Regions from separate parts of the Homo sapiens genome. Here all the other regions are linked to region 1. Evidence: fine-mapped expression QTL. A gene starts in region 1. Each other region holds a variant in brackets. All regions are shown on one strand. Distances are from middle to middle.

The links. PIP is the estimated chance that this variant, and not a neighbour inherited with it, causes the effect. A credible set is the group of variants that fine-mapping cannot tell apart.
Region 2: its variant is the best candidate, but not a certain one, in a credible set for the expression of ANKRD10 in monocytes after R848 (Quach 2016, PIP 0.73).
Region 3: its variant is the best candidate, but not a certain one, in a credible set for the expression of ANKRD10 in monocytes after LPS (Quach 2016, PIP 0.64).
Region 4: its variant is the best candidate, but not a certain one, in a credible set for the expression of ANKRD10 in fibroblasts (GTEx, PIP 0.86).

Annotation. Positions count from the first base shown.
Region 1 is chr13:110,911,081-110,919,121 of GRCh38, forward strand. It overlaps ANKRD10 (ankyrin repeat domain 10), which reads right to left and starts at 3,989. Exons shown (of 6, transcript NM_017664.4): 1 at 3,645-3,989. The coding sequence starts at 3,854. RefSeq lists enhancers at 2,601-3,277, 3,001-3,130, 4,629-5,303 and silencers at 3,241-3,610, 3,881-4,540, 4,671-4,830.
Region 2 is chr13:110,952,927-110,960,967 of GRCh38, forward strand. It overlaps LOC105370364 (a long non-coding RNA gene), which reads right to left. Exons shown (of 3, transcript XR_931732.3): 2 at 4,254-4,325. Among named protein-coding and RNA genes, the nearest start is that of LINC00431, 9.1 kb to the right of the region's middle. RefSeq lists enhancers at 2,994-3,795, 4,061-5,260 and a cis regulatory region at 4,340-4,903. The variant A/G (reference allele first, on the strand shown) is at 4,784.
Region 3 is chr13:110,962,061-110,970,101 of GRCh38, forward strand. It overlaps LINC00431 (long intergenic non-protein coding RNA 431), which reads left to right and starts at 3,967. Exons shown (of 2, transcript NR_126378.1): 1 at 3,967-4,059. The region is part of intron 1 of LOC105370364 (a long non-coding RNA gene); the gene reads right to left. RefSeq lists an enhancer at 2,919-4,118. The variant C/A (reference allele first, on the strand shown) is at 2,100.
Region 4 is chr13:110,885,375-110,893,415 of GRCh38, forward strand. ANKRD10 (ankyrin repeat domain 10) reads right to left here. Exons shown (of 6, transcript NM_017664.4): 4 at 7,654-7,889. Among named protein-coding and RNA genes, the nearest start is that of PRECSIT, 19 kb to the left of the region's middle. The variant ACTTC/A (reference allele first, on the strand shown) is at 4,133.

The DNA.
Region 1 (8,041 bases):
TCCAAGACTTCTATCAAAACTGTTTGTTGCACAGACTATTCTAAACAAAAACGTTAAAGGGATTGGTGGGTTAAAAAACTTTGTGTAGGCCGGGCGCAGTGGCTCATGCCTGTAATCCTAGCACTTTGGGAGGCCAAGGCGGGTGGATCACTTGAGGTCAGGAATTCGAAACCAGCCTGGCCAACATGGTGAAACCCCATCTCTACTAAAAATACAAAAAAATTAGCCGGGCGTGGTGGCGGGCACCTGTAATCCCAGCTACTTGGGAGGCTGAGGCAGGAGAATTGCTTGAACCCAGAAGGCGGAGGTTGCAGAGGGCTGAGATCACGCCACTGCACTCCAACCTGGGCAACAGAGCAAGTCTCCATCTCAAACACCAACACCACCACCACCACTTTGTGTAATGCCAGGCGCAGTGCCTCATGCCTGTAATTCCAGCACTTTGGGAGGCCAAGGCGGGTGGATCACCTGAGGTCAGGGGTTCAAGACCAGCCTGGCCAACACGGCGAAACCCCATACTGGGGTTTCAAAAATACAAAATTACAAAAATTACCTGGGTGTGGTAGTGCATACCTAGAATCCCAGCTACTCAGAAGGCTGAGACAGGAGAATCACTTGAACCTAGGAGGTGGAGGTTGCAGTGAGCAGAGATCACGCCGCTGCACTCCAGCGTGGGCAACAGAGCAAGACCCTGTCTCAAAAAAACAAAAAACAACAACAAAAAACCCCACAAACTTTGTGTAGCCATAGTAAACTCGTCATAGTCAAAGACTATTTTCTATAGTGTGCACAACTGTGCACTTTTACACAAGCCAGCACTGAATACTCATTGAATAATCAATAGAGGCCCCATTCTCCACATTTTTTTACTCTTTTCAAAACCCTATGGGGGAAAAAAGCCTACAGCATAACTGAGCAATGCACCTAGTGGGTGACTAACATGGCAAGTTAAGACTTTGTGGCCAAGCACCAATACCATGATAGCCTCTGGCTAAAATAATTTAGCGCATTCAACAAATTTACCAAGTGCCTACCATGTGCCAAGCAACTGTTCAACCCACGTTCTCTGATCCTGGACTGCTCATTTTCCCTCACTCCAATCACAATGCAGTTAGGGAACAAGCTATGCCTGACTGCAAGCAATTCTCTTCAAGAGGAGAGACCTCACCTGAAGACAAAACACCTGACACTACCATCTCAACTCAAGGTTTCTTTTTCCATTTCTCTTAGCACTTTCAGGCTTTCAGTAAACACTCCTGTGAGATGAAGAGTACACAGATTCAAAACACCCTCTTCAACCAACTTGGACCTGGGAGTAAAGGCTGATGTCTATTTATTGCCTTTATTAATTCACTGGGTGAAAATGAAAGTATTAATTAGCGATAAGATGAACAGGTTGCAAATCCAATAAAAATAAAACGGATGAAAATCACTTGGCGTACCAAAAATCAGCTATTCAGGGCTCGCTGGCTTTAAACCTGTTACCCTTGGGTTCAATTTAGAAACTTGGATTTGGAATTCTGGAAAGATACTGTTCAATATGGTATAAAAGCTACAACAGAGATTTTAAACAACTCGTTTAGTCCTCTGGCAACAAACGAGTCTTACCAACGGTTAGGGGATCTTGTGCACCACTAGCACATTTCTAAGAACACGAGCCTGAAACCTGTGTAAGAGGGCAGCCGTTAGCAGGGCTGGGGAGAAAGCCTGGACTTCGCAAGCGGTAGCCCTGAGTCCTGGCCTGATTTCTGTCCTAACGGCTTCTTCTCAGAAGGGAATGTTTGGACACTGGACAGGGGCTTTCTAAGGCCCCTTCCGTATCTAAGACCAAAGAGCCCTATGATTCAGACAGCTGGAAACAATGAAGTAACTGCTTCTTGTTACAACATTTGATGACCAAGGTAAAGCTACTACTCAAAGTCCCATGGAAGTAGACTTTTGAAAAGTGATTTCAGTCGGTGTTTTTTAAAAAACTGTGATAAAATACACATTAAAAATTACCATTTTAAAGTAACTATTTTAATCCCCAGAGACAAGTGGAGGCACCACTGGATTAAATTTTCTAAGTGACCATCTGTAATGAGGCTTTAAGCATTCTACAGATCGTTGTTCACTGACTATCACCCAGTATTGTGTCGTTCTCAACCAGGGTAGAAAGGACAGAATCCTAAAGTTTAGTGTAAAAATAAACCACAGCAAGAGACACTCTGGAGGGAGGAAATCCTCAGATTACTGACTGCCTCGGGAAATCTATTTAAGGCTGCACGCAGAAGCGCAGGGAGGAGGCTTTATTACTTTTGTTTGTTAAGAAACTCATTTCCCCTGGGCACCTGTTTTCTCCAGCAGGTACTACGGTTGCACAACTTCAGAGACAGTGCCACAGGAACCTAACAGCCCTTGAGGACTGATTAACTTGCTTGTCCCACCCCGATCGTCAAAACTCCTTTTCATTTCTTTTATTGAAAGAAAAGTGACTTTTCCACTTTAAAAGAATCAGAAACTGCTTTCCAAAAGACACAGCTGCTTTGTGAATGTAGCACCAGGGGCAGCAAGGTAAACCGCAACTTCATCAGCTGGTAACGACATTACCAGGGCCAGGCCTTCTTAAAGTAACTTATTTCACATTACCTCTCACATATTTCTGCAAAACCATTTAACCCCATCTCATCACTTACGAGAAAAACACTATACACATCCCTGAATTTCAGTGAATTAAGAAATATTAATTAAAACCAGTCACTTCTGAAATGCACGGTGAAATCTTATTTAAGATTTCTGAGAGCAAGTACCCCAACGACTTCACAGATGAGGAAACGGTAGCTATCCAACCTTTTAAAACCTTAAAGCAGCACTGTGTTCCCCCAGAATTTTCAGTTTAAGAAAAAAGAGGGGAACGTAAAGCCTCCACGGGAAGAGAATTCTGCTTAATTTAACCACTTCTGCAGTAATTTAGATCCAAGATAAACACAGCCGTCACTAATTTTGCTGAAGCGGGGCCAGCTACAAGCCTTAAAGCAAACCCAGAAGCTGGAGAGCCGGCCTCCATCCCACACAGCTGCCGGGGCCTTCCAGTCCCGCCGGGGCGCTTGCTCCTCGGCTGAGCTCGTCCGCAGCGCGGCCCTCGGCTACTGGCGAGGCTGTGCGGAACCAGAAGGTCGACCGCGCCCGGGCATTCCCCGCGCGCCTCTGACCCCAGCTCGGCTCCCCGGAAGCCGCCTGGGCGACTTCGCGGCCTAATACCCGGCTCTGCGAAATCGCTCGCGCCTCCGGCCCGGCCTGGAGGGCCCCGCACCATCCGCGCGCGCGCGCGCTCGCACAGGATCCGGCCAACAGGCGCCGGGACCCTTGGAGCCCGCCTTGTTAGAAACTTGCTACGCGCGCCGCCGCACATGCGCCCTAGGCCCCTCCGGACGCAGGCGCCACCGACCTCGCTTCCGCCCCGCGCCCCCCGGCTGCCCCGCCGCGACTCCGGGCCGCGAGCGCTGCCGCACAGGCGCCCTAGGCCCCTCGGGGCACAGGCGCCGTCGATCCCGCTTCCGCCCCGCGATCCCGGCACGCCCCACGTCCCCCGCACCTCAGACCCGCTTTCCCCGACTCCCACTGGACAGCCGGGGAAAATGGCGCCTTAAAGCGTTCGCACCCACCTTGCCGAAATGCGCGGCCCAGTGCACGGGCGTCCAGCCATAGAAGGAGTCCTCAGAGGCCAGGTGGGCGTGGGGTGTCTGCTGCAGCAGCGAGCAGAGCGTGGCCAGGTCCCCGTCGCGGCAGGCGCGGTGCAGCGGGAAACGGAGCGAGAGCAGCTCCTCGCTGGAGAAGCCCGCCTCTACGCCCGCGCCCGCTCCCGCCGCCGACATGGTCCGTCACCGGAGAGCGCGGGGCTCGCTGGCCTAGAGGACGCGTCGGGGAGGACTCGAGAAGCCGCCGCCGCAGCACAAAGGAACGAGACTAGCGCCGCGGTCGCGTCCCACAGGCTGCCGAGCGGAGCGCGCACAGAGGGGGCGGGGCGGGGCCTGGAGCGGCCGGGCTGGGGGCGGGGCCTGGCCCAGAGGACGCCTTGTGCAGCCGGGCAGGGGTCGGGGCCTGGAGCCGCGGACCTCTGGAGCCGCCGGGCAGGGGGCGGGGCTTGAGCCGGAGGCCGCCTGGAGCAGCCGGGCGGAGGGCGGGGCTTGGAGCTGCGGACGCCTGGAGCGGCCGGTAGGTGGCGGGGTCTAGCCTAGAGGATGCCTGGAGCAGCCGGGTAGGGAGCGGAGCCTGGACCAGAGGACGCCAGCAGCAGCCGATTAGGAGGCGGGGCATGGGGCTGTCGACGTCTGGAGCAGCCGGGCATTGGGCTTGGGCTAGAGGACGCCTGGGGCGGTGGGCGCCTGGAGTAGCCAGGCAGAGGGCGGGGCCTGGCTTGGGTCCACGCCTGGGGCGGCCGGGGGCGGGGCCTGGCTGGAATTGACGCGTGGAGCTCCGGTGGAGGGGGCGGGGCCTGGCTGGGCCGCTGCCTACAGCGGCTTCCGGGGCTTGGAGGTCACGGGGCTCGGAGGTCACGGGGCTCGGAGGTCACGGGGCTGGCTGTGTGGGGGGCTCAGGGGCGTAGAGTGGCCAAGCAGCGGTCTGAGCGGGTCCCGGGGCCTCCGGCGCGGTGGGTCTCGGCTGCGCCCCGGGTGCGGACCATGATGTTTCCAGCCTGGGAGCCGGTCCGGGCGGGGAATCCCGGCTGCCGGGGGCGCGGGTTGAGGCTCTGCGGGCCCGCGCCCAGAGCGGGTGGGAGTCACGGGTCTCCCGGAGGCCCAGTAGCGCGCGGTGAAGTTGTCCAGTAAAAATTTATGGAGCGCCTACGGGGAGCAGGGATTCTCGTTAAAATCTGGGAATCAGCAAGCCCTAGTTCCTTACAGAGCAGGACAGATTCCTCGGTTTTGTCCGAGGGACGCCTTCTTCGGAACCGAGTGCGGTGGGCTAGGACTATACGTTTGCAAGTTTAAGAGATAAGCGAGAAGACCAGACAGAGCAAACAATAAAAGGCTTTTTGTTGAGAACTGTATAAATGTAAGGGAGTACCAAATCCCCTATTTTGAATGACAGTATCACGGACTTTATTACATATGTAATTTTATTCTGATTATGAAAGCATCAGTAATTTCACTATTGAGGAATAACCACAATGTTTATGAATATTTCCTTTGCTTCTAAATATGCGGTCTTTTTAAATCATGTATTTTATTTCATTTGTATATATAGTTTTTCGCTGTGTAAACTTCCTTTTTGCAAAATTCTACGTCACAAATTGAACAAGGCAATTAGATGTCTAGGGAAGTACTGATGCACGAGAAAGCATATTGCAGCATTGGTTAATAAAACGAAAAAATAGAAACCTAAGATTTAACAAAGGGAAGTTGTTAACTAGTGGTGTAAACACTCAACACAGACATGTCTTCATACAGCAAACATTTGTTGAGTACAATGCTGAATGAAACACATTGAGAAACACTCTATAGTGGGGAAGTAGCAAATATTTCAATTCAGTGAGCAATTGCTAATGAATGGAAAATATGACACATAGAATCTATCTTCTCCCAGGGAGTTTGTAATCTGTTAGTGAAGCAGGAAAGAATAATCAAGCAATACTTTTTTGTTTGGACCAAAAGGGTGAGAATAGACTATAAACTCATTTCAGGTTTTGTTTACTCTAGAACGTAATCATTTTTCTTCTCACATGCCATGTTGATTTTAATCTAATCTCTTTAAAATATATCCCCCTGATTTCCATCTTTCTTAGGAGAGAGGTGTCCCATTTTGCGAAAGGACGTGAGTGTATCTTGTCCTCCATGTAATGAAAGGGAGGGATTACTTGCTAGGCTGCATTCTGGGAATGGTGAAACAGAGATGGTGGTAAGTCAAGGAATTTGTCCAAGGGCAAACTGCATGCCTGTGGCAGAGCTTAGAATAATATCCAGACCTAGGTTCCAACCCACTGTTAGATTTTTTTTAACTTTGGAATTTATTTTGCATAGAGTATTAAGGGCTAGGAAGATAAAATAGGTTATAGTGATAGGGTACTTCGTGTACGTCTTTCCTCACTTCAGATGACTGGGTTTTTTAAAGGATTATTTAGACTATATACATATTTATTTAGCTGTACAGGAGTAGACTGACATATATACGTGGTGATGGATCCCCAAGACAGATCCTGTAACTGTGGCAGGAGGATTGTGGATAGGATGGTGTCTACTGACTATTCCCAATGCCAGTGATCTAATTGGTTGGTCACCCAGATTTTGCTCAACTCTGATAATTGTCAGATGCATTCCAACTAGAACTACTCCATCTTAAATGGGGCTGGGTAAGATGAGGCTGAGACCTATTGGGCTGCATTCCCAGATAGTTAAGGCATTCTAAGTCACAGGATGAGATAGGAGGTCAGCACAAGATACAGGTCATGAAGACCTTGCTGATAAACAGGTTGCAGTAAAGAAGCCAGCTAAAACCCACCAAAACCAAGATGGTGACGAGAGTGACCTCTGGTCATCCTCACTGCTACACTCCCACCAGCGCCATGACAGTTTATAAATGCCATGGCAACATCAGGAAGTTACCCTATGTGGTCTAAAAATGGTAGACATGAATAATCCACCCCTTGTTTAGCATATAATCAAGAAATAACCATAAAAATGGGCAACCAGCAGCCCTCGGGGCTGCTCTGCCTAAGGAGTAGCCATTGTTTTATTCCTTTACTTTCCTAATAAACTTGCTTTCACTTTACTCTGTGGCCTCACCCTCAATTCTTTCTTGAGTGAGATCCAAGAACCCTGCCTCTCCTGTGGTCTGGATTGGGACCCCTTTCCTGTAACAATCATTACCAATCTCAGATTTCCTTTGAGACTCTCATTTTTTAAAAGCTCCAAAGAGAAGAAGAGTAGATTCATAACATCTTTTTCATCTGATGAAGCAACCATACACAAGCCAACTTAGGCATTTGAAGATACAATCCAAATCCATGAAAGAAAACAGGAAAACTCAAAACTTAACATATTAAGATTGCCTTTAGACTGGAATTTTTTTTTTTTTCAAAAAAGGATTGCATTGTATGAGAAATTGTGGAAGTGGGGTAGGGCTCAGTTGTGTGAATGGCACAGTGATTCAGTGTCCATACGTGTGACAGACATTGATGGGCATCTCTTGAGTGTCGTTATTACACCAGGAGCAGTGCGCCCTGAGGGACGTGGGGTTGGAGAGCAAGGTAGGCCCCAGTTGATGTTCCATATTAAGCATGCCATGCTAAGGAGTGGCTTTTTACTTTCAAAAAGTTTGGGAACCAATGAGGGGTTTTGTTGTGCCATTTAAGGGAGGGAGTGATGACTTGGGATGGAGGGGTGGGGGGACCCGGGTCAGACTTGCAGCTTGGCTATGAGGATGGAGATCAGGGAGCCCACTGTGACAACACCTTCAGGACTCAACGTGGGCCTGCAAGCCTTGCTGTTTTCTCCTCGGCCCCTTCTCCATTCCTATCCACATCCACTACGCTGGCAAATCCATCTTTTGAGAGGGCAAATCTGCTTAAAAATTGATGTAGGAACAGTTTCCAAAACTTGTCATTCAGATACCACCTGCATGTGGATTTTTTTTTTTTTAGACAGGATCTCACTCTTGTCACCCAGGCTGGAGTACAGTGGTACAGTCATGGCTCACTGCACCCTTGACCTCCTGGGCTCAAGGGATCCTCCTGCTTTGGCCTCCGAAAGCCCAAAGCACTGGGATTACAGGTGTGAGCCATGGCTCCTGGCCATATGTGGACTTTTATATCTACATAGGATTGATATTTTTTTCTTAAAACTGGTTCACTTTTTTAAACTTAGCCACTTCATTCACATCCTCTCATTAATAAACCATTAGTGAGTTTGTGGTGCTGGTTACATTCTCTCCCTACCCATTTAAACAAATAGATATCAAAATAGAGTTTGATCTATAAACCTTCCAAATTGGCTCCTGCCATTCGAGGTTTTCAGACCACACCTGGGAAAATGCTCCCAGCAAGCAAAGTCCAAGATCAGACCCT
Region 2 (8,041 bases), 42 kb after region 1:
CAGGGGATGTGGGACTTGACTTTCGAACGAACCTTCTCTGGGTGGGCAGGCCGCTGCCTCCCTCAATAATTTCAGAAAAACTGAGACCATTTGGACGTTTTGGACACTGAACATTGCCCCCCAAAGGTACAAGGCTGGACACTTGGCCCACACGTGGTCCTAAGTCTCCTTCCTGCCCTGGGTCCCTCTGTCCCATCTCTGAGGCTCTCCCAAAGCTGCCCTCTGTGTGTGAGTAAGCGTCGCTCCTGATCTCTGTGTCAACACAGCCTCATTTTCTTCTTTTACGTCCCTATGGGTCCTCCTAGGGAGCTTTTACCATGAGAGCCCTGAGCTTTGTGTCTGAGAGACCCAGAAAAAACACACAGGCTCTGCTCCCACCAGAATGTGATCTTGGACAAGCATCCTCACGGCTCTGAGCTTGGGTTTCCTGTCTGTAAAACGGGGGTATGTATTTGCCTGTGGGCTTTTCTGAGGGTCCAATAAAGCAGTGTATGCAGAAGGCGCTCAGCACGGATCCTGGGCCATGGCCAGGTGTTGTGGCAACCGAGAGTCACCGCTGTCTCTGCAGCACAGTCACCAGGCCAGACTGCAGTGCTGGGCTGAGCAGTGGGTCCTGGTTTGCTGGGGCCCTCTGGGTTTAGCCCAAAAAGTCCCTCAAAGAGGAGCTCCTCAGCCCCAGGCAAAGTGGGTGTCTGGTCTCTCTAGGACCAGCTCGTGCGGAATTCAAAGGTAAAGGGGAAGAGGCTGGAAATGAAGATGCCACCAATACGCCCGAGAAAAATGCTTTGTCCTGGGCTCTTGGTGTCTCGCCCAGCAGCCGCGCTGTCCCTCTTTCTCGCTCACAGAGCTGGGTTTTGGCAATGTGTGCCCCCAGTGAGGCCCTCTGTGGCCAGGTGGGCTACAGCCCTGTAAGGTAGGAGGAGTCTACCAGCTCTGCAAGGAATTTGCTCCTCCTGATAAAAGGGGAACCAGTGTCCAGGCCTGCACCCCCGCCTCCTGCCCTGGGAGTGGACGAGGCGTCTGGCACTGTGGACACCATCCTTGATCATGAGGCAGGAGCTTGAAGAGAGGCCAGGACAACCTCAGGGACATGGCCTCGTATTGCGGAGCTGCCGGACCAGAGCTGCGTGCCACCTGCCTCTTAGCCGCGGGCGCCCCAGGATCCCAGCCAAGGGGCTGGGCGCTGCCACTCAGGCTCTGTCCGCTGGGGCCAGTGATTGGACGGAAGCACCAATCTTAGGAATTCCAAGTTCCTAAACAGTCGTGGTGTCCAGTGAGATGGGGTCTTGGAGAAGAGTGGATATGCATTTGAATGGCAAGCATTTACTGGGCACTCATCTGAACCAGACACTGCCAGGTACTGGGGGCCAAAGACAGCCCAGCCTCAGTCACTGGTCTCTGTCCCACTCCAGCCAGCCATGTCCAGGAGTCAGGATTCTATAGCTGTGAGCAGGCACAGCAGGTCAGCAGTAACAGAGCACCCACCAAGGGCAAATGCCCTGTCCCCAGGGCAGATTGGGGCAGGCAGAGGACAGGATTCAGCTGACCAGCCCTAAGAAGTGAGCCCTCCTGGGGCACTGTCTGAACTTCCTGGCCAACTCTGGCTTCGGTTGCCCCATTGTTACTGGGGATCACCCCCGTCCATGGCGGATGGGCTGTCTCTGCAACTCTCCATCTCTAACAACTGTACCCACAGTCCCTGACCTGTCCCAGTGTGACCCAGTCCACTCCATGCCCGAAGCTGGGAGTGGCCTCCTGGGGACCCAAACTCCTCAAGCTGCAGACACCCTGGGATTCCCTGAGATGGGCGGATGGAGGCCCAGCTGCGGGGAGGCGCGTTCCTGCTCGGAGAGCAGTCAGGGCTTTGGGGGCCAAAGAGAGGCAGGAGGCCGAGCCACCCCGTGGTGAGCTGCCCAGGGCGAAAGGCTGCCTTGACCCTTCCACGGGCCTCCCTACCCTCGGGGAGATTGGTCAGGGCTAGAAAAACGCTTTAGGTAGAGATGAAGCCAGCAAGTGGAACAAGGTTAGGAAGCTCTTTGTTTTAAAACCATGTGTAACTGCTGATGGTTGAATTTTTTGAGATAGGAGAGGCTGAAATACAAACAATGACGAGCACAACCATCAAAACAGAGCCAAGCACACCTGCAGCAGCCAGTCCAGGGGGCTGGCCTGCTCCACAGTCAGACTTGCCAGAAGTCAGACCTCCTCTAGCGACGACTCAGGCAGCCACAACGCAATCCCTGGACCAGCCGGCCCCAGAGGGCCAGGAATGCATCCATCACCGACAGGTCCTATGGCTTTTGTCCTCGCTTCCAACTCAGAGCCAACCAGAGAAAGCCACACATGCTCCCTCACCAACCCCTCACCGCCCGTCTGATGAGCCACCCCCAGCACACCCAGCTGCAGCCTGCACGGGACCTGGGCTTCCTTTGCCTTAGTGAGGCCCCATCCCCTGCCTGACTCAGAGGCTCTGAAATTGCATGTGATGGTGACTCAGAGGCTTTGAGATTGCACGTGATGGTGGTGACTGCCCTCCCACAGCAAGCTCTGGACAGAGAGTCTCGGCCTGGCCTGCCTGGGTGGGCTTCACTGACCTCCACAGGGATTTGAATTCTCACTGTCAATGCTTTCAGCTTTCTACCTAGAAGAAATCTGGGGGTGTGGATGGGGGTAAGAGCTGCTGCTTCCTTCTAGGTTTAGTTGGTCAGGACCCAGGAAAAATATCAGAAATGCCAGCCACTCTTTCCTCTTCCAGAATCCTTTTCTGAGGCCACTGTTTCTCTGGGGGTGGCTGAGACACTGGCTGGAGCAGGTGCTGGTCTCAGGACTAAAACTCTCAGAATCTGGCAACCGCCAGATTCACCAGGAAAGTGAGTCCAGTCACAGCCATTCCTTGACCTTGGGGAGTCTAACTCCTGCCTGGGGCAGTTCGCTTGAGTACCCAGAAAGTGGACGGGGCGGCAGAAGCGAGAATGGGAACACCCATTCATTCACTGGAGCGCTCACTCATCCATCCACCTAACCCATCAAACACGCAGGCAGGCAGAGCTTTTCCCAGGCCTCTCCCACCCAGATGTGGAAAGGGAGCAAAGCCTGACTTCTGACAGCGACAGCTCCTGGAAAGGGCCCAGCACCTGGGGGCCCTGCGTTCCCACGGGAGCCCCTGTTCGAGGCCGTGCAGCCTTCACAGCCGCAGTCCCGGGCCCTGCCGGGTGGAAGGTGGCCCCATCCTCTACCCCGACCCCACTCCACAGGCAATGCTGGCAGAGAGGTCCTGGGAGGTGACTGTTTCCCAAGGGCATCGATGTGAGCAGGGGTCAGGACTGCATGCTCTGAGTCCCAGCATTCTGGGCCTCAGTTTACCCACATGTAAAACGAGAGGTCAGAGCAGAAGTGCAGGCACTGGCTAAGCGCTCACACCCTGGAGCGCGGCTGTCTACGTGGAAATGGCCGTGAAGGCAAAGGACACATGGAACTGTGGAGAGCCAGCGTGATGGAAAGACTGAAACATCTCACTAGTAATTTGACACTGATCCCATGTTGAAATCATCACGTGAAATACAATGTTATTGCAATGAGTTTCATCTGCATCTTTTTAATGTGGCCACTAGACAATGAAAAGCACATCTTCGGCTCATGCTGTGTTTCTATTGGACGGCCCTGGCCCAGGGCAGCAGTTCTCAGCCGGCTGTACTTTAGCATCACCTGCAGAGCCCTAGAGAAGCACAGAGGCACCAGGCTCAGCCAAACCAGCACGGCCTGCATCCCCGGGGTGAGGCCAGGGGGTCTGTAGTTTCCACCATCTTTCCAGGGGGCTGGCAGGGCTGAGGCGGTGGAGGAGGGGACGGCTCAGCCATGGGGCCTCTCAGGTGCACAGGAATCGGTGGCATCAGGTTGAATGCGGTGCTGGTGCTGGAGGGCTGGGCCCGGCTTGCCGCTGGGCGTTTCTAACAAGCTCCCCAAACCAGATGATGCAGACGCTGAGGGTCCTTGGACCTCACTTTGAGAAGCAAGGCTCCCACGCACTTTTTAGGTGTAATGGTCTAAAATTCTGTCTTCCTTAATTTCTTGAGAGTTTGACTCTTAGATGTCAGCAGTAAAGCTATGGGCCATTGGTATATGATTCTAGCCCCAAACCAATCAGTTCCCTCCACTGTCTGCAGTTGGTACCAGGTTATCTGGGAAAAAGCCACAGACAACCATCCAGTCCCCTTCATGTACAGGCCAGAGGTTGATAGGAGGGGCTTCCTTACCAAATACTGTGGTCATATCGTCATCCATATTTTTAAAACTTGACTAACTTGACGGCAGTCCAGAACTTGAACCTAGGGGGAAATAAAAGCCCTATAGTTTAACAATGTTCATTGAATTTGCATTTGCTTCTCTTTAAATGGATACCGTTTTGTGGGTGCCCACCAGCCCCCTCTAGAGGAAGGAGCCTGTCACGCGTATCCATATAGAAGACCACCTAAACAGGCTTTGTGTAAGCAACAAGGCTGTTTATTCACTTGGGTGCAAGTGGGCTGAGTCCGAAAAGAGAGTCAGCGAAGGAAGATAGGAGAGAGGCAGCTTTATAGGACTTGGGTAGGCAGTGGAAAGTTAGAGTTGAAGGTAGTTATCTGTTGTCAGCAGGAGAGGGGGGTCACAAGGTGCATGGTGGGGAGATCATGAGATCCATTGTCCAGGAGAAGAATGTCACAGGGTCGATTGATCAGTTAGGGTAGGGCAGGAACAAGTCATAATGTTGGAATGTCGTAAGGTTGGTTAATCAGTTAAGGCAGAA[A/G]CTGACTGTTTCACTTCTTTTGTGGTTTCTTGGCTGCTCCAGGCTTCTTGGCTCCTGCTGGGCATCTGGATATATACGTGCAGGTCACAGGGGTTACAATGGCTTAGCTCCAGCTCAGAGGCCTGACAGAGCCCTGCCTGAGTTCCAGTCCCTCCTGCAGGCCATGAGAGATGGCCCTGGGAAAGTTCTTTGGGATTTGGGCTTCTTGTCTGGAAAATGGGGGGAAATGTTCATCCTCGGGGTGGCTGTGAGGATGGAGGACAATTGCCCAGGAGCTCTGAGCTAAGCCTGCCCTCCTGGTCCCTGGTCCCTTGAGAGGCCGAGACAACATCCTGGTCCCAAGGATGTCTAGGCTTACCCAGCTGTTTTGAGGTAAGCAAAGTAAGAGGGCACATCTCCTTTTGTGAAAGCAACACTTTGACCTCTTTCATGACAGCACCCGCAATGCATGCACCTGTGTCAGAGGCGTTTGAACCAGAGCCACTCCATCTTGAGTAGGGGCTCGGTAAAATAAGGCTGAGACCTGCTGGAGTGCATTCCCAGGAGGTTAGACATTCTAAGTCACAGGATGAGGCAGGAGGTCAGCACAAGATACAGGTCATAAAACCTTGCCGATAAAACAGGTTGCAGTAAAGAAGATGGCCAAAACCCACCCAAACCAAGATGGCAACAAGTGTGACCTCTGGACGTCCTCACTGCTACATGCCAACCAGCGCTATGACAGTTTATAAATGCCATGGCAATGTCAGGAAGTTACCCTATATGGTCTAAAAAGGGGAGGCATGAATCATCCACCCCTTCTTCAGCATATCATCAATAAATAACCATAAAAATGGGCAACCAGCAGCCCTTGGGGCTACTTTGTCTATAGAATAGCCATTCTTTTATTCCTGTACTTTCCTAATAAACTTGCTTTCACCTTATGGATTTGCCTTGAATTCTTTCTTGCGTGAGATCCAAGAACCCTCCCTTGGGGTCTGGATTGAGACCACTTTCTTGTAAAATCTTTCCGGTGAACCATGGAAGAGATGATACTAAAGAGACCCCCAACCCAAAGGAAATAGACTGCACACTGATTGGCTGACCTTGTAAGTCATTTGCATTTACCCGGGTGAAGGGTGGGATTGGGTTAGAGGCCCAACTTAAGGGAGTTAGAGTCTCTCCTAAGACAGAGTGGGTTAAAGGCAACTCTTAATAAAAGGCAAGAAAGCTTGACTGAACTTGGGTTCAAGGCCCAACTTAGGAGGGTTAGAGTCCTTCCTAAGATTTAGGGGGTTAGAGGCCCCTCTCAGTAAGGTCCCTCTCAGCTAAGAACATGTTTGGCACTAAGGGATGTTAACTGCTATTCTCTTTGGATTAATCTGCCTTGCACTCTTTGCTGATGGCTATGGGTGACAGAATCATGGGACATGGGGGGCTTTTTGCTCCCTAAAGGGGGAAACTTGAGAGCTGATGGGACTGCTGGAAAAGATCCCTTTGCTACTGACAAGCGGCTGCCCGAACTTTTCAGTGTCACTACAATGGCTGGGTCTTTCTCTGGCCTCCTTGAGCTCTTCACCTTCCCCACCCTGCCACAGGCACTGCTTTCTCTCTCTTTCCTTTTCCTTTCTTATCTTTTCTATTACTCAGGGCGACCATCTTGCCCAGAGACCACAAGTTGAAACTCCCGGTTGGGGGTTGGATTAAAAGTGATGGGGCCCTGAAACCCCGTCTCTACTAAAAATACAAAAAAAAAAAAATTAGCCGGGCGTGATGGCGGGCGCCTGTAGTCCCAGCTACTCTGGAGGCTGAGGCAGGAGAATGGCGTGAACCCGGGAGGCGGAGCTTGCAGTGAGCCGAGATCACACCACTGCACTCCAGTCTGGGCGACAGAGTGAGACTCCGTCTCAAAAAAAACAAAAAACAAAAAACAAAAAAGTGATGGGGCCCAACCGGGGGCAAGCTTGAGCTTTGCCAGTTTGATATTGAGTGCTAAGCATAGTGGCTAATGTCCATGTTTTGTCATGTATTTTGCTCTGGCCAGAACAGAAAAAGATTATTTTCCTTTGTGTCGCGGCTTTGTCCCCAGGGCTGTGGAGCAGCGAGCCAGGTCACTAGGGCCATTCAGGGAAAGGGAACCCACCAGCCTGGCATGCCAGCAAAAGGGAAAGGATTTCTTACCAGTCAGACTTCTGGCCTCTCTCGTTCTCTCTGTGCAAACCATTCTCTCTCTCTGTGCCCGTTGAATGAATGGTAAAAATCAGTTTATCTCTTTCTATAAAGTTTTGATTAATAGGAAAAGGGATTCGTAAGGCTAGTCTTAAGCTGTAGTAAATCTGGTGTGCTTTGCATATTTTTCTGTATTGTTCTGTCATAAAGAGGGGTAACTTAGGATAGAATGCAGGCTTAGGACCCCATAAGCCTGCTGTTCAAAATGGCCTTGCAAACTGGTCAGTAACAAACTTTGCTGCAGGTCCCTGAGGAAAAAAAAAAACTGAATAAAGTTTTCCTCTCATCTTGTTTCATGTCCTTGGGAGCTTGACCTTGTAACCATATGGCGGTACTTTCTCTTGGTCTCTGTCATCTGGAGAATAGGAATTTTGGAGTTCATGTAAGTTAGCCCTAAAAATCATCTCAAGCAGTTAAAAGCCTTCACAAGCTCAAAATCTGCTGCTCTGGGCTCCTTCTGATAAGAGCAATGGAGACTGCCCAAGGCTGTATGTAGGTCAGTAGCTAAGGCTTTCTCTCTTCACAGTGGCGGCCCAGGTTCAGGGCTCAATTCCTGTCTTAAAAAATAAGTCCTTTCTGGTTTAATATCTGTGTAAACATTTGTTAATTCTCTTCCCCTCCACAAATGGTTTTAAATTTTCCTTTCTCTAAGCTCCTGGGAGTTTACCTTTGGTAAAGTTCAAAAGCCAGAAATACTGGCCGTTTGGCCTGGCTAAAGTTGGGTAATAAGAAATTTAAAAGGTTTTTTTTTTTTTTTTGAGCTCAGTTGGGCGTGGTGGCTCACGCCTGTAATCCCAGCACTTTGGGAGGCTGAGGCGGGCGGATCATCTGAGGTCGGGAGTTCAAGACCAGCCTGACCAACATGGTGAAGCCCCTGTCTCTACTAAAAGTACAAAATTAGCCAGGTGTGGTGGTGCATGCCTGTAATCCCAGCTACTCGGGAGGCTGAGGCAGGAGAATTCTTGAACCCAGGAGGCAGAGGTTGCGGTAAGCTGAGATCACGTCATTGCACTCCACCCTGGGCAACAAGAGCGATATGCCATATCAAAA
Region 3 (8,041 bases), 51 kb after region 1:
TTTTGTTTTTCGGAGTCAAGGAAACTTTTCTTTTAAGCTATTTACAGCTTTTAACAATTAAGTCTACTCCTGTGAACAAAAGTTGAAGCATATTTGCCTCTCTCTACCTGATTTCTTCAGAATTTGGAAACTATTTGTAAGTATTCTTATGGCAATACAGTTATTTGCATAAGTGAAATAAAAATCTGCTTTCTTTTGCAACAGGACACAATTAAAGAAACTGGTTATTTTACCAAGGATTTCACTGGAGTGATGTGCTTTCCTTTAAGGAATCAAGCTTAATTTACAGAGCCAATGAAAACCCTTTGGGGGCTGGGCACAGTGGCTCATGCCTGTAGTCCCAGCATTTTGGGAGGCTGAGGTGGGCAAATCACATGAGGTCAAGAGTTCAAGACTAGCCTGGCCAACATGGTGAAACCCTGTCTCTACTAAAAATACAAAAATTAGTTGGGTGTGGTGGCATGTGACTGTAATCTCGGCTACTTGGGAGGCTGGGGCATGAGAATCACTTGAACCTGGGAGGTGGAGGCTTCAGTGAGCCAAGATTTTGCCACTGCACACCAGCCTGGGCAACCGAGCAAGACTCTTGTCTTAAAAGAAAAAAAATCCCCTTGGTAAAACTGGCCTCATACCTTGTCTACATAGTCCCTGTACAGGGTTCCTGACCTGTGTTAAGTAAAAAATGTCACTTTCTGACAGGCCCAGGAGCCCCAAGTTATCTTAAAACCTCAAAAGAAAAAAATTCACCCAACTCATATAGGTATTTGAGGATACAAACCCATGTCTGAACTCTGCTTTTAAAAAAACTGTCTTAACTGAGATTCCTTCTATGGAACAAAATTCCATCAAAGCCAATTTTAAAAGCCTGTGTGAATAATAATTATTCTTGCTGCACTTTATACAAATAATCAGGCCAAGTATAATAAAGCAAATCAGTCATACCACAATTTGTCTTTGGTAAAAATGGGAGATGGGAAAGAAAAAACATTATGTTTCAAGAACTATGGTGTACCTGTTATTAAATTCTAGTCTCATCAGTTGTTTTTAAGTTTTTTTCCTGCAATTTAGACTAACTTTTCTTATTCCTGTGAACCAACCAGTGATCTATGACTGCTGCTCAGAAGAAACAAGATGTATGGGTAATGTAAAAGTCTAAATCAATATTCTAATTTTGGGCATGTATTAAAATCAGCTAGCAATCCCATATCAGCTCAGTTTCAACAATTGCCCATTTCATAAAATGCCTTCTAATTTAGTTTACTTGGGATAATTTTACTTATTTTGCTTTACTGTTGTAAAACATATTGCCATTGTACTCTTTGTGTAAAAAGCAGAATAAGCTTACCAAATGTTCTCTTAAATTAAACACTTATTAATCTTCCAGATATCACCTTTTGCTGGAACTCAAAAGTTATGAATGGCCCTTGCCACACCAATGCTTTCTAATTAAACTCCTCTCTACCCTGAATGCAAGAAACTCAATAGTTAGGAATATCATTGCCCCTGTTCAGCCTAAAAAAATTACAAAAGATGGTCTTTGACCCTCTACAACTCTTAGGATTAAGGGTTCTCCTATAAAAGAGAGGGAGGGAAATGTCAGAGGTGTTTGAACCAGAGTAACTCCATCTTGAGTAAGGGCTTGGTAAAATAAGGCTGAGACCTGCTGGAGTGCATTCCCAGTAGATTAGAAATTCTAAGTCACGGGATGAGATAGGAGGTCAGCACAAGATCCAGGTTGTAAGGACATTACTGATAAAACAGGTTGTAGCAAAGAAGATGGCCAAAACCCACCAAAACCAAGATGGTGACGAGTGTGACCTCTGGTCATCCTTACTGCTACACTCCCACCAGCACCATGACAGTTCACGAATGCCATGGCAACATAAGAAAGTTACCACATATGGTCTAAAAAGGGGAGGTTTGAATAATCCACCCCTCCACCCCTTGTTTAGTATATAATCAAGAAATAACCATAAAAATGGGCAACCAGGAGCCCTTGGGGCTGCCCTGTCTATGGAATAGCCATTTGTTTATTCCTTTATTTTCCTAATAAACTTGCTTTCACTTTACTCTACGGATTTGCCTCAAATTCTTTCTTG[C/A]ATGAGATCCAAGAACTCTCTTGTGGGGTCTGGATTAGGACGCCTTTCCGGTAAGACCTGGAAGCTTAGAAACATGTTCTGGGGAAATGGGAAACAGTTTGCAATGCTATGGCTGCATCATGAAGACCTGGCTTCATGGCTCTGTTTTAGGAGGGGCAGGACTCAGAGAGACGGGCCACCCCCTTTCTCCTCCTTCGTAAGCAAAGTGATTTCAGGGTGGCCCCATTTGCAGATAAGAGGTGGAGTCATGTGGGTGAAATGCTGATGTCTGGAATGTGGGTTATTCACAGGACCTGTGGCCTCCTGACCTGTAGCCTCAGCTGCCTGGCTGATAGCAGCTGACCCTGCTGAGTGACTCCGACAGTGAATGGTGATTCTGAGCACTTCTTTCTCCTTGTTAGCCCCCAAACAATGGTTCCTTCCTTCTGCCATTCACAGTTTTTCTTTATTGGAGGTGTGGTGTCTCAGTGTCCTGGGGCATTGCTTAGGCTCAAGGTCAAGGTCAAGGTCAGTCTCTTCCTCCAGCCCCGAGGTTGGGCTCAGCAGGGCCATGCACCTTCCCTTTCCTAGTGCACAGAGCTTTCCAGTGGTGTCTTCTAGGATCTGAAGTTCCAACACTAAACCAGTGACAAAGCTGATTTCCAAATGGCTTTAATGACAGACAATCTACACACCAATCAACTAGTCTGAGCACATGAAGGCTCAGAACAATGAGGACAAATATGCAAAAAGGTCTGAGATGTGATGACAATTGCTTCCCAGTATGCTGACCTTCAGTAAATGAAACAAAGTATGGTTCTCTTTGGATGAGACATTAATGATCATTAAGAATGGGTACGGCTGCATCGTGCAAGTGCTTTGTTAAAAATATTCTTTTCATTTTGTGTCTGTCCCGTAATTATAATGGAAGTATTGTGCAAGTCAGCCAGTAAGCATGTGCAGTAAAATATTTGGGTTTTATAACATCAGTGTGGTTTTTGAAGTTCATTGTCAAGTGGAGTGGCTTTGCCATATCCTTCATGTGTCACCTCTGACTTCAGCCTCACGGTTTAAGATGAACCATGATGTTCATCTTAATGATGAATGCTGTGTAATCATGATGTTAAATATGAGTTATAAATTTCTCTTCAAAGAATTAATATGACAGTATGTTCAATTCTTTGCCTTCTACTTTTAAACTTAACTTCCTTGTAAAGCAACCTTTTCTGATTATCTACTCCACCCTGACTCATTCTCCACCTTGACTCATTCTGATTACCTACTCCATCCTGACTCATTCTCCACCCTGACTCATTCTGATTACTTACTCCACCCTGACTCATTTTCCACCCTGACTCATTCCGATTACCTGCTCCACCCTGACTCATTCTCCACCTTGACTCATTTCATAACCGTTTTTCCCTCCAAACAACTCACCCTGTCACTCTCTTTAAATTACTCAATCAGAATTAGTTTAGCCTGTACGGTCTAACCCTAGCCAATAGGGGAATGACAAAGCAGTAGGGACCATGTGCATAAGGAAAAATAACCCCTTTCCCTCCTTTGTCCAGGTGTGCACTCACCAGTCCTCCATCTGTAAGGGCATACCCTTCTATAGAAGTACCTTGCCCTGCTGAGAATTAAAAAGAAAATTTTATATTCGAGTGCTATTTCTTTTGTGGCACCGAAACTTTACTTATAACAATTTGGGGGCTCATCCGGGATTACATTCCCCTCCGGGGGTGGTCTCTGGTTCTCTCTTGTGAGGAGGTGCACCCCACCCCACTGTGGCGGCCTCAGGGGTGAGAAATCAAGACCCACCCAGTGTGAAGAATAACCTGAGCTCTCAGCTACATGGAAAGAAACTGGCTAGCAACCTAGCTTAAAGCATCCTCCATAAGGGCCACACAAGTGTGTGCATGGACCGAGGAAAAGACACCATGGGAGCCGGTAAAGTATTTCCTTGGTGGTTGGGAGCAAGGTAAGAAAGCCGTGGCAGGGGGTGGTGAAGTACTCCTTGGTCAGGGTGGCTTAGAGGTTAAAAAGAGGTGAGACATCCCCATTGGCAGGGACTGAACCTCACACAAACCTCCAGTAATAGAAAAGGCAAGTATGTTCCAGTGGTGGAAATTGAACCTCACCCCGAAAGGCAAGAAATTTCCAGTGGGGGGAATTGAGCCTCACCCCAAAAGGTGAGAAATTTCCAGTAAGGGAAATTGAACCTTGAACTCTACCCCAAAACCATCAAGATGGGAAATACCCCAAGCAAGACAGGGAGCAAGAAGGATAAAGATGGTAACAAAGATATCCCCCCAGATAGCCCCCTAGGTCTCATGCTAAAATACTGGAAAGATAATGAAAGGATAATGAAAGGATTAAACATAGGAAAAAGCAACAAATGATAAAATATTGCTGTTTTATTTGGACTCAGGGACCCATCCTCAGACCCTCAATCTTCTGGCCAAGGTTTGGATCAAATGAGGGTGTAATGTGTCAGCTTCTAATCTGATACATTAATGATAAAAGTCCAGTGTCCCAAGAAGAACTAGGCTATGCCCTTTGTTGGAGGGAAGGACCTGCCCTTCTTTTTCCCTTAAAAACAGATAGGGAAGAACCCAATCTAGCACATCAAAATTAAAAGTCAGAGGAGCCAGCTCTCATGCCTAAAGACTCCAGTGCATGGGATCCCCTAGACTATCTTCCCCCATTCAGTGTCCTCAGTCTTTCCCCTCAGACAGCCATTGCCGCCTCAGATCCCTTTCCAAATTTCCCCTCTACTCACGTTGTCCCTCCTCCTTATAACCCTGACTCTTGGGAATTACTGTCCCACCAGCCTGTTCCCTCCCAACCTAAATATCCCTCTCCAAAAGGACTCTAGTGTGAGGTAGAACAATGTAAAAAAGATATTCAGAATTTCCCATTTCTCTCTGTACCTAAGAGGTCAGCCCTGACCCTCTTCCCTTTGAAAGAGGTACCACGAGGTGGGGAGGGCCATTGGCTTTGTAAATGCTCCCTTAACCAGTTCAGAAGTCTGGAATTTTAAAAAGGAGCTTAAACCACTACTAGATGACCCTTATGGAGTGGCAGACCAAACTGACCAATTCTTAGGACCTCAGTTATACACTTGGGTGGAGTTAATGTCCATCTTGGGCATCCTCTTTTCAGGGGAAGAAAGGAGTATGATTCACAGGGCTGCTATGGTAGTTTAGGAATGTGAGCACCCTCCTGGTGAAAACTTTCCTACCGCAGACCAGAAATTCCCTGCCCCTCGAGACCCCCAGTGGGACAATAACGATGCAGGTCACTGGGAAAATATGCAGGAACTAAGGGAGATGATAATAAAAGGAATTTGGGAATCAGTACCCTGAACCCAAAATCTTTCTAAAGCATTTGTTATACAACAGGAAAAGGATGAAGGGCCTATGAGATTCCTAGACAGACTGAGGGAGCAAATGAGGCAATATGCAGGCCTCAATTTGGATGATCCCTTTGGGCAAGGAATGTTGAAATTCCAGTTTGTCACTAAAAGTTGGCCAGACACTTCAAAAAAGTTGCAAAAGATAGACAATTGGGAAGACCGTCTGCTAAGTGAGCTCCTCAGGGAAGCTCAGAAAGTATATGTGAAAAGGGATGAAGAAAAACAGAAACAAAAGACAAAACTTATGTTTTCCACCTTCCAACAGATGGCTCCAAACCCAGGTACTTCTAGACAGAGTTTCCAGGGAGCCAGAAACTATAAAGGGTCTAAACCCTATTTTAAAGGACCCAGCCTCCATCTGGAGGACCAAGGTCCAAGTTTACCAGGCCCCCTAAAGAGTATGGGGGAGCAAAGTTAAAGAATCCCAGAACTAAGAGGAAGGAAGGACAAGATAAGTGCTATAGATGTGGAAGAACAGGCCACTTCAAGAGAGGATGTCCTGAACTAAGAAAGGAGAAAGAAGCCCTTCCACTCATGACTTTCAAGGAAGAATAAGGGAGTCAGGGGCTCTGTCTCTTTTATCTTGAGTCCCACCAGGAGCCCCTGATAAATTTGGAGGTGGGACCTAAACATGAGCTTATCACTTTTTTAGTTGATTCAGGGGCTGCTCACTCCTCTGTTTGTTTCCCCTCGTCTAATGTTGTCTCCTCCTCAGAGGAACTTTTAGTCTCCAGGGTAAAAGGGGAAGGGTTTAGAGCAAACATTTTAGAAAGCACAGAAGTTAGATACGAGGATCACTCAGCTCATATTCAGTTCTTGTTAATCCTTGAAGCAGGAACTAATTTACTGGGGAGGGATTTAATGTTAAAGTTGGGCATAGGTCTACAAGTCAGCCCAAGAGGATTCCTCACTTCATGAAACCTACCCACCAATGCGGATGAAAAATATATTAATCCTAATGTCTGCCCAAAGAAGGAAACTGAGGGAAACTCCAAGTCCCTCTGATCCACATCATGCTAAAAACCCCGGGAGAAGTAGTAAGAAGGAAGCAATACCCTATTCCCCTAGAAGGTAGGATAGGGTTGAAACCTATAATCAAAGGCCTTATTAAGGACAGGTTTCTCAAGCCCCGTATGTCTCCATATAACACCCCAATACTGCCAGTCAAGAACAGACGGGTCATACCGGCTAGTACAGGACCTTAGAGCTATCAACCAAATAGTCCAGACTACCCACCCCATTGTCCCCAGTCCTTACACCATTCTTAGCAAGATTCCATATAATCATCAATGGTTTACTGTAATAGATTTGAAGGATGCTTTTTGGGCATGTCCCCTGGCTGAAGACAGCTGATATATTTTGAATGGGAGGATCCCCACTCAGGGCGGAAACAACAATATCAATGGATGGTCTTGCCTCAAGGGTTCACAGATTCCCCTAATCTTTTTGGCCAAATTTTAGAACAAGTACTAGAAAAAGTTGTCATCCCAGAACAAATATGCCTTCTTCAGTACGTGGATGACATTCTTATACCTGGTGAAGATACAGAGAAGGTAACTGACTTCTCTACACATATTCTTAACCATCTGCAGTTTGAGGGGCTACAAGTCTCAAAAAGAAAGCTTCAGTATGTAGAGCCCGAAGTTAAATATTTAGGCCACTTGGTAAGTGCAGACAAGTGAAGAATAGGGCCTGAATGAATCGAGGGAATCATGTCCCTACCCTTGCCTCAAACTACCAAGAATGAAAAACTTGCCCAGCAGAAGCCTAACCATCTCCTGTGGACTTCTGAGGAAGTTTATCAAGTTGAGGAGCTGAAGAAAAGGCTCATAGCTACCCCTGCTTTAGCCTTACCCTCCCTAGAAAAGCCATTCCACCTTTTTGTTAATGTGGACAGTGGGGTAGCTTTAGGAGGCTGACTCAAGAACACGGAGGCCACCAGCAGCCTGTAGCCTTCCTATCAAAGGTCTTAGACCCAGTCACTTGTGGATGGCCTCAATGCATCCAGTCTGTCATGGTTACAGCAATACTAGTCGAGGAAAGCAGAAAGTTAACCTTTGGAGGAAAATTGACAGTAAGCATGCCTCACCGAGTTAGAACTATCTTAAACCAGAGAGCACGGAGATGGCTTACTGACTCAAGAATCTTAAAGTATGAGGACATTCTGTTAGAAAAGGATGATTTAACATTGACCACTGATAATTCACTCAATCCAGCAGGTTTCCTAACAGGGAATCCAAATCTAAGGAGGGAACACACATGTTTAGATTTTTTAGACCAGACATAGGAGAAACCCCCTTCTGGACTGGACAGCACTTATTCATAGATGGTTCCTCCTGGGTGATTGAGGAAAAAAGACAAAATGGGTATTCAGTGATTGATGGAGAAACTCTTACAGAAATAGAATCAGGAAAATTGCCCAACAGTTGGTCTGCTCAAACGTGTGAGCTGTTTGCACTCAGCCAATCCTTAAAGTAACAGAACCAGGAAGGAACCATCTATACAGATTCCAGGTATGCCTTTGGAGTGGCCCATACATTTGGGA
Region 4 (8,041 bases), 26 kb before region 1:
TAAATACTACTAAAAATACAAACATTAGCCAGGCGTGGTGGCGAGTGCCTGTAGTCCCAGCTACTGGGGAGGCTGAGGCAGGAGAATCACTAGAACCCAGGAGGCGGAGGTTGCATTGAACAGAGATTGCGCCACTGCCCTCCAGCCTGGTGACAGAGCGAGACTCCATCTAAAAAAAAAGAAAAAAAGAAAGAAAGAAAAAGAAAAAAGAATGGGAGAGGGGGGTGGTGGAAGAGCAGATCCCCCAAGTGTGCCAAAGTCGTCTCAACCTCCAGGAGCCTTCATGGCACGCAGACACAGAGAACCTGCAGCCAAGAGCGGGTCAACGTTTGCTCCTCCCACAGGCTGCAATCCTGCAAAGCCACACACGAACACGGTTTGTACAAAAGAGTGGACTTTGATGGGAATACAATGCAGACAGCTTAAAATACCTACACACTCAATTGGCGTTCAGATGCCAATGTTCCCCGGATAAAGTGGCAACTAGGGGTTACCTGCAATTTCACACCTCTGAAAAGCAGGTTAGAAAACCGCAACAGAGAAGAGCTTCACGAAAGCTGGGGTGTTTGTCTTCTCCTTCACTAGGCCCAGTACCTAGAATAGTACTCACATCAGCAGATGAAGCCCACCCACTAGCCAGGAGAAACAAAAACACAAGGTAAACAAAAACAAATGATCAGTAGCTGGCATAGCCTGTAATACAACCTGAGGAGTCACAACCATCCAGGCAGGCCTGGCCATGCGAGGTGCAGGGACATGCACCCTGAAGGCAGAGGTGCCACTAGGGGCCGGAAGAGCCGCGTTAAGGGCAGCCCAGGGAAGAGGCAGCGGGAAACACACTAGTCTCCCAGCAACAATTAATCCTGTAACTATAAGGCTCACAGTGACCAGGGACCTCTCAGAAACTGCTCCATTGAGTAGATGCATCTTTTGTTAATGCAGATGGTTTCTCTAATAAAGCAGGATAAGAATGAAAGGCTTCCATATTTTACCAATCAAGATTCTATTGTGGGAATCATTCCAACAGAACCTTAGAATTTCATTCCATCTCCATAGATACAGCCTCTCTATACGGTGTAGTTCCCACAACCAGCTGTCACAGAGCCTTGGATAATGCTGTTTCACGAGTGCCACCTTCTTCATTCCTAGTAGCTATACATAAGTTAATTGGCTGGTAGAGATATTAAGCCCGCAATTATCTCTTTTAATTATGTTGTAAGCCATGAAATTAAAACTGGCCTCTCAAAATTTTAAGAACATTGGATTTGGACCTGTAAGACCCTACCACCTGTGGCATTTTCCCCCACACCTGTTGCCATTGCTGAAGGAATCATTTAATTACACCTTGCATTTGAGAAGGGTGGCCTGTACAGACATTTCAGAAAAACATGTCTTCCAAGGTCATCAGTTTACTCAGTTTGGGAAAGGAAGCACTATACTTTCCTATCTTAATATTGATTCTTAAAGTTACACAATGATTGAATGCTTCTGAAAATGTTAGTATGACCACTTTTTTCAAAGGGTCTTCACCTGCTGACTGTAAAAGCAGGTGTCAGGTGTCTGTTGGGAAGACAGGCTTCTAGTACACCTGAGACACAACGTTCAGGATGGAAACCTATCTAGGACTAGCTCAAAACCTCCAGCCTCCCTGCTCAGAGATACAGCCACAAGCCAGGTGTGGTCACTGCCTGCCCTCCTAAGTGAGAACTAGAGCCAGTAGAGCACGCCTCTGGCTGAGAAACCCACATTCCTGACCCTGGGGGACACACAGAGATGCTCCACTTGGGGCTGATGCCCAGGGCAACTAAACGGTCTGCATTTGTATTTTCATCTGAAATTTGGGGGTTGCACAAAACCCCTAAAGCCAGTTCCCAGTAACTCTGTAACTGTATGAGCTATTCAGGATCAAGCAGCTTGAAACCATGAAAAAAGTCTTAGTTTCAAGTCCGGGAAGGTCTGCTGCATTACAGAAGTAATGCAATTGGACACCAAGGTCGTGCCACTACAGAGGCTTATGGGAGTGCTGACCAGGTGGAGTGAAGACACTCCAGTGCACCACTCATACTGACACACAGGAAAACAGGACTGTAATTGCCAGGCATGCCTGCAGATACATGTAAGGCTTAGGAAAAATGCCTGATCACAACTTTAATCTTTACATAAAAAACCAAAAAGCACTCTATAAAGTCATACTTTGGGATATGAAGTGCTCCAATCAGCCAGCAGGACATTACTCCCAAGACCCAAGCCATACTGGTTATATTCCCCAAGACTAAATCAGGAGACATTTTACAAGTCAGAAACTGCCAAGTAGTTTCACCCAATGAACTTAGGCAAAGCTTGAGATCCTGACCTAGATTAGTCATCTACCTTTTACTGTGCCTCTAGGTGCTGTGTGGAAGGGTCCCAGGTGTTGACCCATAACCCTTGAGAGGTGGCCAAATGGCCCAGGACCCCTCCCGCCTGTGGCCTTTCCACTGAACTGAGTGCATCCTGCTGCTGCTTCCACTGGGGAAGCCTCAATGTCCTCTCATTAAGGCAGCAAGGAAAGACACTCTGCCTTCCTGGTTTCCCACCAGCCATTACCTGGAACTATTCTTTGTTCTGCTGTAGAGCACATTTTACTCAACTTTTTAAGGTCCTGTTAAAACCAAATTGTTTTTCTATTATGAGGTGACCTTTCGCGGGACCCGCCAGGGCCCAGATTCCAGCAGTGCAGAGGGTTGGGATGACTCCAGGCAGCAGGAAGCAGCAGCGACAAAGGACAGAGAAGGGAACTGAGTGCTCTGGAAAGACCGGGGGGGACTGGGGGTTTGGCTCAAATAATACAAAAGCGGCTTGTGATCAAGTGTGCCAGTCTTCGTTTTGCTTCCCACTGGAGTGTCCACAACTGTGCTGAGGACAACTCAGGCCCATGAGGTTTGCTCAAATGGAGACTTTTAACAGTGGAAAACGCAGACACTGTCTGGACTGGAAGTGTAATTCAGACTGTATTTCAAGACGTCACATCTTCAGGGATCAAGAAAAAACAATCACTCCTTATTTGAACACAATTAGGTAGGTGTGTTCTATCATCCTGGCCACATTTTTATAAACAAATATACTGCAAATTTGAAAACAGTGAGGACGTCAGGAGTTAAAGTGCTATAATATGTAACTAAACTAGAAGGAACTAAATTACAAATTTACTCCTGGGAGGCATTTTATTTCCTCTCAAGTTTCAAGCAATAAACATCTATCATTTAACAAACCAGCTGGTCATATCTGCCCTCCTTTACCAAGTCTTTAACCCTGCTCAACACGAACAGCTAAGGACAAAAGGCAGAGATCCTTTATCCAGGTTAAATCCACTCTGGGAAAGTGTTAAAACTTTCCACCGGTAATTTTACCTTTAAATCATCATGTTGTAGATACTTTTTTCTGTAAGGTGTTTTTATATTCAATACCTTCACAGTATGAATGAGATTCTAAGATCAGTAATATGCCTATGTGATTAAGACCGAGCTGTGAAGTCAGTTTGACACTTGAGATCTGCTGTCACCACAGCCTACTTCTGGGGCAAATGTCCCAATTGTGAAATTGAAGTTATTGGGTCAGTTTTTAAACTCACTGTGTTCCCCTGCTTCTTCCCCACGACTCTAGAGCTCCATCCAAAACAATTATCAATCAGCAAAATCAAGTTTTCACTCATGGAAGGGACTGGCATTCTTTTCTAACCAAGATCATTGAAAAACGACCACAGTTTCCAAGGAGTACATATAAAAATAATTGTATTGGGTTATTCCTGAAGATTAACCAAGAACGCTAGCAAACCTGAACTGAGTTTTATACAGTGGTGCAGCTGGAGTCCTGAAGCCCATGCATCATACCATCAGAGCAAATGATTGATAAAAACAACAACAAAAAAATTAAAGACTGATACTTCCTTGCACCATCTAAAATGAACAAAATCCCACACTGAGGAAAGTATTATCCCAAGATACTTTCCATCAAAACAGACTGCTTAAGTAACTGTGGATTTTATTTCACACTCCAGAGTTCATGTCCACACCTATTATGTCTTACGTTCTGACTAAACTGCATTTGACACAGATGCAAATAATTTTATGAAAGTATGACTTCTTGTAGCATA[ACTTC/A]CTTCCAAGACAGTTAATATTCAAGCAATACAAAAGGCCAAGTCTTTCTTCTTCACTTAAGATCTTTTACATCAACAGCTTCCAAAAGAAAATTCCTCCAATTTAAAATACTTGAAAGTAGTTTACTAAAAGCAGACACTACTTTTTGTGGGGAAGAATGGTTAACATTCAGACTCAGGATTCCAAAGTGTTTTGGCTTTTTCTTTTTCTTTTTTAAAGGGTGAATTTTACAGGGATCTCCTTAAGAGGTGACTTAGCCAGAAAACTTTCTGGAAGTAATTACTTTTGTAAATATAAATTCCACACTAAAAGCATCAATATTTGTAACTCTTAAATTCTAGGAAAACAGAACGCACTAAGTTTTATTGGTAAGATACAAGTTACGCAGCCAAGATATTATCCCTGGCACCTGTAACTTTTTTTGTTTTTAAAGCCAAACAAAACAAAAAACCCAGCTTAAACTCTTCTAAATATTTTTATATGTGAAGTTACTCAAAGTATTTTATATACATGTGTTAAATGAGGAAAAAAGAATTTATCATTTCTTTTACTCTGGCATGAGAACCAAAAACCTAATAAAATAATTCAGATTAAGCAAAACTTAAAACACACATTTAAACAAAATCAAAACAAGATGCCAGAAATTACAACGAAAACTAAAGCAACATATCTTTAATTCAAAACTAAAAAACTGGTCAGTTAATATGGAAATAATTATATATCTATTGAAACCAAGAACAATTTCATGTAGAACATTCAGGTAATTGGCAGAAAAAAAAATCCTGTTTTAATGACCAAGAATGACTCCCAATACCCGACATCAGCACTCTCAGTATGTAATGGTAAAAGGGGGGCAAAAAATCACCTTTTCCCATAGGGAAACGAGTGGTGGGAGTGCAGGTGAGCTAAAGATGCCCATCTATGCTCACACAGACACAAAAAAATATAAACACACTCTTGTGACGAGTGTGGCAAATCTAAGGACTGTCAACTACATAAAAGACAGAACCATCAGAAGTTCCAGGAAATTAGTAAAGTCATGGTCAGTATACAAATTAGGAAAACCAAGGATGAGCAGCTTTGAAGTAATGTGCATCTTGGCTGAAATATTTCAACTGTGATAATCACAGAAACATCAGTCATGTACTGTGTACCTGCAACAGTGGCTCAACCTGTTAGGTCTACGTATTACCTGCAACACTTAAGCAGAAGTGCCGGCTCCAACCATATTTTTGTCTAAATTAGCACCCTCGGGCTTGGGACCAGGAATGTATAGTTTGGGAAGGCTGCATGGTGAGTTTAATGTGCAAAATGTGAACTTCTAATCACTGGTCAACCAAAACAAATCCTCCTTCTAAAGGAAGAAAATAAAACCCCCAAAGTCAGCAGGACTCTTTAAACCAAATTTATGTAGTTAACGAGGATTAGGAAACAAGGAATCCTCAGAAATGCTTTTCAGGGTAATTAAGCAATGTGGTATTGGCCAATTCAACTGACCTTAGAAACTCTGAGACTAGTTTTACGAACTCTTCTAGGTGCATTTTGAGTCCAATTAGCATGTTAAGTGATCTCTTTTTAAAAATACTAAACAGAATTTAAGATTTATCAGCAATAAGAGAAAATGAAGCATAAATCATTTTTCAAGGACATTTAGACTATACAGTGACATACAGGGACAGACATGTACAATTCGTGCATGAGGGCATGAGGCCACTCTACAATACTAACCAGGCTTTAATTAAAGGAAATGACAAAGGATTTTTTTAAAAAGTGGATGCTCTTAAAAAGGCGTTGAAACTACATTAGAAAAAATATATTAAAACATGGTACAAATAAATGACAATGCTGAATACATCACCATTAAAAAAGACCATTTTGAATTTTATGCAGATCTTCATGTCATGCTTATGATTTTAGCATCTTTCCAGAAATGCTTAACTCATAAAAATCTTGAATTTGATAAAACTGTTAAGTTCATACATTACTATAAAAAGTCTTATCACAGGAATTTTTATGGTGACAAGATATAGTTGTGAAGTACATAATACTGACATTTTATCAACTTTATAGGGAAAAAATGTTTCACTTGGACACACTCATTAAATAAGGTAGAAAAGATGATGTTGGTTCATGAAATTTAACCAAAATCTCTAGATTTTTAAGTGATTAACTGATAGTCACTCAGTTTTCCTTATGCTGTAACTTGCACGGTTGATTTTTTTAAACCAACGGGCAAAACTTTGTGCTTATACTCAGCAAATCTGAGCTCATAATCTGCTTCATTACTTCACACTCCCACCTCTCCCCCTAAGTTCACTAAATATGCCTGCCAAGCTATCACATTTACCTTCTTATTAAGACTTTTTTTTTTTTTTTTTTTTAAATAGAGACAAGGTCTCACTATGTTGCCCAGGCTGGTCTCGAACTCCTGAGCTCAAGTAATCCTCCTGCCTCAGCCTCCCAAAGTGCTGGGATTACAGGTATGAGCCATGACAACTGGCCTAAGACATCTTATATATAGATATAGATGATTTTCCTATAGGAAAGGGAGATGTTTTCAACTTCAAGAGTGACTGGCTGACTGCTTATTTGCAAACTCAAACCTACCTTAAAAACAAAAAACAAAAAACCCAAAAAACGGCTAGGCACAGTGGCTCATGCCTGTAATCCCAGCACTTTGGGAGGCCGAGGCAGGTGGCTTACTGGAGGCCAGGAGTTCAAGACCAGCCTGGCCAACATGGTGAAGCCCCTTCTCTACTAAAAATACAAATTAGCCCAGTGTGATAGCATGCACCTGTAATCCCAGCTACTTGGGAGGCTGAGACAGGAGAATTGCTTTAACTTGGGAGCCGGAGGTTGCAGTGAGCCGAGATCACAGCATTGCACTCCAGCCTGGGTGACAGAGCAAAAAAAAAAAAAAAAAAAATGGTGGGAGAATACTTACAACGAAAATAACTTACCTTAGGGACTTAAATCCTCAAGATCAAATTATACACCAGATCTTGCTGTGATAAGTCAACACACATGTGAGGTACAGAGACCACTGAGGTCAAATCATAGTACAGAAATAGTACAGAAAACATTCACCTTCCCGAATGTGAAAATGTTTTACTGCCAGACCATCAGCAATTTTTATAAGCCCAGGAACATTTACAAGAAGCAAATTAAAAAAAAAAAAAAATTCAGGCACAGTGGCAGATTTTCTTTAATAGATATATTTCAAACAGATACAACAAATTAAAAAATCTAATTCATGGCAGGTAAACATGGGTGCTCAAAAAGTTCCACATAGACATTTACACTTGGGCCATCAGTATTTCCCTCACATTCCCTTTTGTTAAGTCCCATCTTCGCAGTGGCAGTACAGGAGAAATCTCCACCGTCACCGCACAATCCACCAGGCGCATTACCACCTGAAGTGAAGGTCTCATCTCGAAGGTGCGCTCAGCCATAAAAAGAAAACATATTACAGAAAGGAAAAATAAGTGTGCTCTTCCCACCCGCAAAGCGGTCTCACCTTCAGTTCTAGCTTTCTTTACTCCAAAGTCTTCTGAGTCTTCCAAGCATCTCTTTCGATTTGTTCCCACACTAATATGATTAGGAAATACATTCTGATGACCCCCATTTAAGATGCCATTGTTATAGAAATGGTTCAGATGACAATTCTGGAGGTTCAAGAGAAACTGGGCACACTCTTGGAAACCCTGGGTTTGTGCAATGTCTGCTGCTGTCAGGCCACTGGCATTTCTCAGGCTGTACAACACAAAAACACTGAATTACACCCCATCCGCGTGCTAACCTGGTCTCTGCTCCTGCTGAACTGACTAGCTATCTGAAGGTGGTATGAAAGAGTAAACAAATTCATAGCAAATCTTCATTAAAGAAGTAGTTAATCAATCTAGCTC